Homo sapiens: one gene and its partner. The protein of the gene in region 1 purifies or fractionates together with the protein of each later gene. This does not show direct contact. Each region holds a gene or a part of one and is shown in the gene's direction. Other genes may lie near its edges.

Region 1 (5,352 bases):
GGGCAGATCATTTGAGGCCAGGGGTTCAAGACCAGTCTGGCCAACATAGTGAAACCCTGTCTCTACTAAAAATATAAAAAATTAGCTGAGCACAGTGGCGCACGCCTGTAATCCCGGCTACTTGGGAGGCTGAGTCAGGAGAATCACTTGAACCTGGGAGGGAAAGTTACAGTGAACTAAGATTGCACCACTGTATTCCAGCCTTGGTGACAGAGTGAGACTCTGTCTCAAAAAAAAAAAAAATGTTTAGACTTACAGGAAAGTTGCAAAGATAGTAGTGTTCCTTTACACATGGTACCCAGCTTCACCGAAGGTTCACATCTTACGCTGCTGTGTACATTGGTTGTAGCTAAGGAACCAGCACGGGTACATCACTATTAGCTAAACGCCACTGTTCCTTTGGCTTTGCCAGTTTTCCTCTAATGTCCCTTTTCTGTTCCAGCTCGCCCCCCAGGATACCACATGAGGTTTAGTCGTTACGTCTCCTTAGGCGCCTCTTGGCTGTAACAGTTTCCAACCCTCTATTGCTGATAGCCTTGGCAGTTTTGAGGAGTACCAGTCAAGGATTTTGTACAATGTCCAGGGACACCTTTTTGCCTTCACATTTGGGTGTCATGTGGGCTGGTAGCAGGTCACTCTGAGATCCTTGAAAACTCTGACTCAGACTGGCATTGACAGATTGGTGTTTTATTTCCAGAGGGCTCAAAACCTTCAGAGAATTTCTCTGCACCTCCTGTGCCTTGGTGATATTTTGCAAGTTAAAAAGAATTTGTCCTTTGGCAAAACCCCATTGCTACAAAAAATACCAAAATTAGCTGGGCGTGGTGGTGTACGCCTGTGGTCCCAGCTACTCTGGAGGCTATGGTGGGAAGATCGCTTGAGCCCAGAAGACCAAGGCTGCAGTAAGCCAAGATCGCACCACAGCACTACAGCCTGGGTGACAGAGCGAGACCCTGTCTCAAAAAAAAAAAAAAAAAAAAAAAAGTTCTTTTCCTTCACAGCTGGCTTAATTCCTACTGTGCTGTTGAGGCTGAAAGGTCACTGTGTTCTACTCACCTGCCAGGCTCCATCTTTGACTCAGGTATGCATGACAGGACCATATGGCTTTCATCTAATTGCTCTCTCTTTGGGATCCTGTTACGTGGTAGGGCCTTACTCTAGAGCATGAGCAAAACCGATGTGATACTGGCCCTGAGGGGCTCACGATGTGGGTGGAGGAAACCTATGGTTACTCTTTCATTCATTCGACAGATATTTATGGAGCACCTACTATGTGTTAGGCACATGCTAGGTTCTGGGGGACCAGGCGGGCCTAGTGGAGGCTGTTGAGGAAATAAACCCACAGATGAGCATGGAATTAAAAATGGTAAATTGTGTTCTAAAACTGGTAAACTGTGTTCTAAAGGAAAAGCAATGGGGTCTCTGGGAGGATAACTGAGGGGTCCCGGTTTGGCGGTTTGGGAGAGTCATCCAAGAATCCTTTGAAGTAACGTTTTCAAACTGACTGTGGCGTAACATGCAGACCTGGAAGTGCGTGAAGTATGAGACACATCTGAAGCTCTGTGTTTCCGTGTGTGTGCAACGCAAGTGACCAGCACCCCAGAGGGCTCCTTCATGCCTCCCCCAGGCCAGTGCCCTGTACCCCCATACATACCACCTCTTATCACCACAGGTTCGATTTCTCTGTTCTTGAACATCATGTGAATGGAATCACACAGTAGGTTGCCTTTGTTTTATTTTATTATTTTATTTTGAGACAGGGTCTCACTGTGTCACCTAGGCTGGAGTGCAGTGGTGTGATCATGGCTCGCTGTAGCCTCAACCTCCCAGCCTCAGGTTATTTTTGTGCCTCAGCCTCCCCAGTAGCTGGGATCACCGTCACGTGCCACCACTCCCAGCTAATAAATAGGTTGCCTTTTATTTCTGGCTCCTTTTGCCCAGCATAATGTTTTAGAGATTGATCACATTGATCGTACATGTCAATAGTGTCTTCCTTTTTTTTTTTTTTTTTTTTTTTTTTGAGACAAGGTCTCGCTCTGTCACCCAGCTGGAGTGCAGTGGCTCGATCTCAGCTTACTGCATCCTCTGCCTCTTGTCCTCCTGGGCTCAAGCAGTCCTCCCACCTCAGCCTCCCGAGTAACTGGGACCACAGGCACGTGCCACCACACCTGGCTAATTTTTGTATTTTTTGTGGAGATGGGATTTCACCATGTTGTCAAGGCTGGTCTCGAACTCCTGGGCTCAAATGGTCCCCCCACTTCGGCCTCCCAAAGTGCTATGATTACTGGCATGAGCCACCACGCCCAGCCGGGTTTGTTTCTTTTGAGTACTGAATAGATTCCATTGCACAGCTGTCTCCATGTCCCACAACTGGTTTATCCCATCCTCTGTTGATGAATATTTGGGTTGTTTCTATTTTGATTTATGAATAAGGCTGTTATGAAGTTTGCATCTAAGTCTAAATATGGACACACATCCTTTCATTTCTCTCAGGTGGATTCCTAGAAGTGGCATTGCTCAGTCATAGAGTAGGTACATGTTTACTTTAGAGAAATTGCCAGACTTTTCCCAAAGCAGCTGCACCATTTTGTGTCCCACCGGCAGTGGGCGAGAGTTCCGGGTGGTTCCACTTCCCCACCAACACTTGAGCACTTGGTGGGTTTTTTTGTGTTTTGTTTTGTTTTTGTTTTGAGACGGAGTCTCGCTCTGTTGCCCAGGCTGGAGTGCAGAGGCACAATCTCGGCTCACTGCAACCTCCGTCTCCTGGGTTCAAGCTGATTCTCCTGCCTTAGCCTCCCAAATAGCTGGGATTATAGGCGCGTGCCACCACACCCAGCTGATTTTTGTATTTTTAGTAGAAATGGGGTTTCACCATGTTAGCCAGGCACTTGGTGTTAAGAGTCACCGGTGGCTGCGTTCCTGGATCTCAAGGTGGCTTTACTTTGCGTTTCCCTGATGACTCATGGAGGTTAAGCACCTTTTCATATGTTGATTGGTCATCGGAATTTGGTCGTTTGTGAAGTACATGTTTTTATTGTCTGTCTAGCCTTTTTTAAATTGATTTGTAAAAGTCGTTATATATTTTGGACAATTTCTTTGCGTTTTAAAAGTCATTTCCTACCTTTATGGCCTGGCTTTTCATGAAAAGCAGTTTTGTTTTTTTTTTTTCTTGAGATGGAGTCTCACTCTGTTGCCCAGGCTGGAGTGCAGTGGCGCAATCTCGGCTCACTGCAACCTCTGCCTCCTGGGTTCAAGTGATTCTCCTGCCTCAGCCTCCCGAGTAGCTGGGATTACAGGCGCATGCTACCACGCCTGGCTAATTTTTTGTATTTTTAGTAGAGATGGGTTTTCGCCATGTTGGCCAGGCTGGTCTTGAACTCCTGACCTCGTGATCCACCTGCCTCAGCCTCCCAAAGTACTGGGATTACAGGCGTGAGCTACCTCACCTGGCCTCAATTTTTGTATTTTTAGTAGAGATGGGGTTTCACCATGTTGGCCAGGCTGGTCTTGAACTCCTGACCTCAGGTGATCTGTCCGCCTCGGCCTCCCAAAGTGCTGGGATTACAGGTGCGAGCCACCACGCCTGGCCAGGAGGTCACTTACTTTCATTCTAAGTAAATCACTGGGCCTTCCAGGCAGAGGGAACAGCATGGGCAGAGACCCTGAGTGGGGAATGTGTTTAGCATGTTTTGAAGAAAGGACAAGATGAAGAGGCCGGTGTGGTGGGAGCAGAGAGAGGGAGATGGGGAGCGGGGAAGTACATGTGGGTGGAGGACACTGGGAACGGGAGGACTTAGTGTTTTATTCCAAGCACAATCAGAAGCTGTTGGGAAAACGCAAGCACAGATAAAAAACGGTTTTCTCATCATTTGTTAAAAATCTCAAGGCTGTGACACCATGAAAGACAAATAACGGCCCCAATACATGATCTTATCTGTGTGACACTGTAGGGTTTTTATTTTTTTATTTTTTATTTTTTTGAGACAGAGTCTTGCTCTGTTGCCCAGGCTGGAGTGCAGTGGCACGGTGTCAGCTCACTGCCAGCTCCGCCTCCCGGGTTCATGCCATTCTCCTGCCTCAGCCTCCCGGGTAGCTGGGACTACAGGTGCCCGCCACCACACCTGGCTAATTTTTTTGTATTTTTAGTAGAGATGGGGTTTCACCGTGTTAGCCCGGATGGTTTCGATCTCCTGACCTCGTTATCTGCCCGCCTCAGCCTCCCAAAGTGCCGGGATTACAGGCGTGAGCCACTGCGCCCGTCCAGGGTTCTTAACTTTGAAAAACAACCTCAGTGGCTGGGCGCAGTGGCTCATGCCAGTAATCCCAGCACTTAGGGAGACCAAGGCAGATTACCTGAGATTGGGAGTTCGAGACCAGCCTGGCCAACATGGTGAAACCCCATCTCTACTAAAAAATATCTTGGTGGCCAAGCGTGTGGCTCATGCCTATAATCCCAGCACTTTGGGAGGCTGAGGCAGGTGGATCACCTGAGGTCAGGAGCTCGAGACCAGCCTGACCAACATGGTGAAACCCCGTCTCTACTGAAAATACAAAATCAGCCTGGTGTGGTGGCACATGCCTGTAATCCCAGCTACTACGGAGGCTGAGGCAGGAGAATCACTTGAACCCAGGAGGCGGAGGTTGCAGTGAGCTGAGATCGTGCTACTGCACTCTAGCCTGGGTGACAAGAGCGAAACTCCATCTCAAAAAAAATAAGTGAATATATAAAAAATAAAAATAATCTTGGAAGACCAGGTGTTGGGAGCCAGCTGGCCCTGGGTTTGAATAATGAATAAGCTGCTTTCTCAGCTCTGGGGCAAGTGGTATCACCTTTCTGAGACTCAGTTTCCCCCTCTGTACATTGGGGAGTACTCATAGTTCCTACCCCATAGGGCTGTGTGTCTTGGTGGGGAGAGCGCATGTGCCACGTGCCTGGCGCTGGGAGCACTCCATGAGTGCTGTGTTGCTGTTGCCACGGTTGTTGTGGTTTGTTATGGTTTTGACTTCGGGCGGAGAGCCCAGGTTTATTTCCAGTGCTTGCTGGGCCCTCAGGGGAAGGCATCCCCAAGACTCCTGTTCTCTGGGAGCCCTGATGGTAGGGCCCCATCAGATTCCCTAGGGCTTTTCCCAATCCAGGGAACCAGGGAGGTCCCAGAGGGCTTTGCCGTAGCCCTGGCTGGCTGGGGCTCTGTCACAGGCTTGGTGGTTGCTGCGGGGCCTGGGGTGTTGCCTGCAAAGCAAGCAGCCCTGGGGAGGCTTCTCCTAGCCCCTCGGAGCATCAGGTGGAACAGTCCGGGCGGCTCAGGAGCATCCCCTCAGTGAATCTGTGTCCAGGTGATGGGCCAAGGGTGC
Region 2 (4,426 bases), on another chromosome or scaffold:
CTATGCAGGGTCCTCAGAAGTGGAATACAGAGCGGAGGTCGGTCAGAATGCCTATCTGCCCTGCTTCTACACCCCAGCCGCCCCAGGGAACCTCGTGCCCGTCTGCTGGGGCAAAGGAGCCTGTCCTGTGTTTGAATGTGGCAACGTGGTGCTCAGGACTGATGAAAGGGATGTGAATTATTGGACATCCAGATACTGGCTAAATGGGGATTTCCGCAAAGGAGATGTGTCCCTGACCATAGAGAATGTGACTCTAGCAGACAGTGGGATCTACTGCTGCCGGATCCAAATCCCAGGCATAATGAATGATGAAAAATTTAACCTGAAGTTGGTCATCAAACCAGGTGAGTGGACATTTGCATGCCATCTTTATGAATAAGATTTATCTGTGGATCATATTAAAGGTACTGATTGTTCTCATCTCTGACTTCCCTAATTATAGCCCTGGAGGAGGGCCACTAAGACCTAAAGTTTAACAGGCCCCATTGGTGATGCTCAGTGATATTTAACACCTTCTCTCTGTTTTAAAACTCATGGGTGTGCCTGGGCGTGGTGGCTCACACCTCTAATCCCAGCACTTTGGGAGGCTGAGGCCGGTGGATCATGAGGTCAGGAATTCGAGACCAGCCTGGCCAACATAGTAAAACCTTGTCTCCACTAAAAATACAAAAAATTAGCCAGGCATGGTTACGGGAGCCTGTAATTCTAGCTACTTGGGGGGCTGAAGCAGGAGAATCACTTGAACCTGGGAGTCGGAGGTTGTGGTAAGCCAAGATCTCGCCATTGTACTCCAGCCTGGCTGACAAGGGTGAAACTCTGTCTCAAAAAAAAAAAAAGAAAAGAAAAGAAAAGCCAAAACTCATGGGTGGAATGTATAGATGGGATGAAAGGCCTAGATCAGTGGTTAGAGACCCTGACTCTCATTAGAATCACATAGAGAGTTTTTAAACAACTATAGATGCCAGGTACAGTGGCTCATGCCTATAATCCCAATACTTTGAGAGGCTGAAGCAGGAGGATCACTTGAGGTCAGGAGTTTGAGACCAGCCTGGCTGATATACTGTGGCTACCCCTATCTCTTAAAAAGCAGAAGAAAAAACCCCACTACCAAAAACCAGAGAAATCAGCATCTCTGGAGGTAGATGCTAAGCATTAGCTTTTTACAGAGTCTACCTCAGGTGATTTTACCCCAGGTGCAGCCAGCATGGTGAACTGCTGGGTTATGCATGTATGCTGGGAGGTGAACAGACTTAAGATTTCTATAACATGTACTTTGTGCCCAGATAGAGCTGAGTTTACATCTAACTCTGCCTCTTACTAGCTATATAATCCTGAGCAAGTTATTGAAACGCTGTGAGCTCCTCTTCTATAAAATATGACAATAATACCGATCATGTGGGCCATTAGAAGGATTTTATGTGATAATATTTTATTAAAAGCCTTTATAGGTTGGGCATCCCAAATCTGAAAATCTAAAACCTAAAATGCACCAAAATCTGAAATGCTCTAAAATCCAAAACTTTTTGGACACTGACATGACATTCAAAGGAAAAGCTCATTGGAACATAAGTATAGGCAGATACTAAAAAATAAAAAAATAAAAACATGGCTGGGCGTGGTGGCTCATGCCTATAATCCCAGCACTTTGGGAGGCTGAGGTGGGTGGATCACCTGAGGTCGGGAGTTCGAGACCAGTCTGACCAACATGGAGAAACCCTGTCTCTACTAAAAATACAAAATTAGCCAGGTGTGGTTGCACATGCCTGTAGTCCCAGCTACTCAGGAGTCTGAGGCAGGAGAATTGCTTGAACCCAGGAGGCGGAGGTTGCAGTGAGCCGAGATTATGCCATTGCACTCCAGCCTGGGCAACAAGAGCAAAACTCCGTTTCAAAAAAAAAAAAAAAATTCAAAATCTAAAACATTTCTGATCTCAAGCATTTCAGATAAGGAGTCTTCAACCTGTAATTATGGCCATTTGTGTGGCTGTTAGTTCCGCTATTAATAATCAGAATGTAACAATGATGACTGCATCTTACCTTTGTCAAACATTTGAAGTGTGTGATACACTCTCAACGTAGGTATCCAGGCAGGTTTGGAAGCTGAGGGTGTATTTCTCTTTCTTAATTGTCTTTCGCATTTTTTTCTTGCTGCCCCTTTGATTCCCTGAAATAAGCTTTCTGCTCTCAGATAATTTTCATCCTTATGTTGTTTCTGACATTAGCCAAGGTCACCCCTGCACCGACTCGGCAGAGAGACTTCACTGCAGCCTTTCCAAGGATGCTTACCACCAGGGGACATGGCCCAGGTAACTATGCATGGGGCAGAGGAGGGAATCTTTAGCTGGCTCTGAATTCAGAGGATTTTGAATGTGGGAAAAAAAGATGAGAAAACAGTGTGAGAGTGGAGGCATGGATATCTCCGTGCACCTGAAATAGTGTTTGAAAAGAGGGAAGTGGTGGAGACACACCTGTGCTGGGAAAAAGATGGTCTGGCTTAGGATTATTTTACTTAAATTTTAACTGGAAAAAAGTTAATAAACTTTATAGTCTTTAATTTTACTTAAATATTAACTAAATTGAATGAAATGCTCATTACTTTGTCCACATTTTCTGACTGACCCTGGACTGGTGATGTTTGGTCATGAACTGGTGTCAGTCTGTGTTTGGGAACTGACACATTGGATTAGGTGATTTCTAGGATGCCTTCTAGCTAGAATAAAGCCCATCACCTTCCCTGGATTCCAGCCACAGAAAGAATAGTTAAATTCTTCATGTAATTCAGCAAGGACGTACTCAGGGTGCTCCAGAAGAGAACACTGGGCATAAAGCAGAAGTCAAGTCACATTGATCATGAAGGTTAATTTTAAGGTATTTCTTGTCAGTGTCCTGGTCTCTTCTAAACTCTCTGGAGCTCCATTTTTTTTTTCTTCTGTAAAATGAGGTTAATAGGTGAGTCCCACCTCATAATGTCATAAATCTCATAAATCACACCTTATGGGCTTTAAATAAGAAAATGTCTAAAACGTTTATCCCAATGTCTGACCACAATTTGTACATGTTAGCTGTTGTCGTTAATATTATAAGATCAGGAGGCACAGTGAGATTGTGGTTAAAGTACTTCAGTGACAGGTGGAATGGGTTCTAATTTCAGCTGTTCTTGATAGCTCTGTGACCTCAGTCAAGTTGCTCAAATTCTCTGAAGCTCAGTTTGCTCATCTCTACAATGAGGATAATTCCAGTGCCCATGTCATGAGGTGGTTGTAATGTATAAACATGATAATGTATGTAAAATGCTCAGCATAGTACCTGGCCCATAAAAAGCACTCAACTGTTTATTATTACTATAGTTACTGGTTTTAGCTCTCCAAAGTTTCAGTCTTTGGTTAGTCTTTAGTGATTGGTAGCCAACATCTTTTATGCAATTAGAGAGGAAACTAAATATGGTGGGGACAGAAAATAATAAAGTTATACCAGATACTTATTGTATGCCATTGTTATATTTTAAAGAATCTTACAACCATAGTGCTAGAAGGGACTTCAAGGGTCATTTAGTCTCACTTTCCCATCCTGTGCTTCAGTACTTTTTTTTTTTTTTTTAATTGAGACGGAGTCTTGCTCTGTCACCCAGACTAGAGTGCAGTGGCGCAATCTCGGCTCACTGCAAGTTCCGCCTCCTGGGTTCACGCCATTCTCCTGCCTCAGCCTCCCAAGTAGCTGGGACTACAGGCGCCCACCATCAAGCCCAGCTAATTTTTTTCTTTTTTGTATTTTTAGTAGAGACAGAGTTTCACCGTGTTAGCCAGGATGGTCTCCATCTCCTGACCTTGTGATCCTCCCGCCTCGGCCTCCCAAAGTGCTGGGATTACACGCGTGAGCCACCGCGCCCGGCCAGTACTTTTTACTACATCACCACTGAATGGGCATTTGCTGTAGACGGAGTTCACTCCCTGTCGAGGTGGTGCATTTCCTTATACTTGTCTCTACCACAGACAGAAGTCTTCTTTCCTTTAGTTTTTCTTTCCTTTTTTTTTTTTTTTGAGACGGAGTCTCACTCTCTCACCCAGGCTGGAGTGCAATGACACGATCTTGGCTCACTGCAAACTCTGCCTCCCAGGTTCATGCCATTCTCCTGCCTCAGCCTCCCAAGTAGCTGGGATTACAGACGCGCGCCACCACGCCCCGCTAATTTTTGTATTTTTATTAGAGACGGGGTTTCACCATGGTGGCCATGCTGGTCTCGAACTCCTAACCTCAGGTGATCCCTCTGCCTCGGCCTCCCAAAGCGCTGGGATTACAGGTGTAAGCCACCACGCCCAGCCTTCCCTTTAGTTTTTGTTTGTTAGTTCCTTCCCTCTAGGGCAACAAAAATGGGAATATAGGAATAATACCTCGAACCTCTGAGCTTCTCAAGGGCCTGACTGAGAAAA

The links. The genes of interacting proteins can lie anywhere in the genome.
Region 2: the proteins of SH2B3 (region 1) and HAVCR2 purify together in Homo sapiens (pull-down; one study listed by IntAct). This does not show direct contact.

The regions. Positions count from the first base shown.
Region 1 is NC_000012.12:111,419,408-111,424,759, forward strand, and holds part of SH2B3 (SH2B adapter protein 3), read left to right. Parts: intron 1-1,001; exon of another isoform or gene 1,002-1,081; intron 1,082-5,352. UniProt on the Homo sapiens protein: Links T-cell receptor activation signal to phospholipase C-gamma-1, GRB2 and phosphatidylinositol 3-kinase.
Region 2 is NC_000005.10:157,102,545-157,106,970, reverse strand, and holds part of HAVCR2 (hepatitis A virus cellular receptor 2 precursor), read left to right. Parts: intron 1-8; coding exon 9-344; intron 345-2,221; coding exon 2,222-2,305; intron 2,306-4,426. UniProt on the Homo sapiens protein: Cell surface receptor implicated in modulating innate and adaptive immune responses. Generally accepted to have an inhibiting function.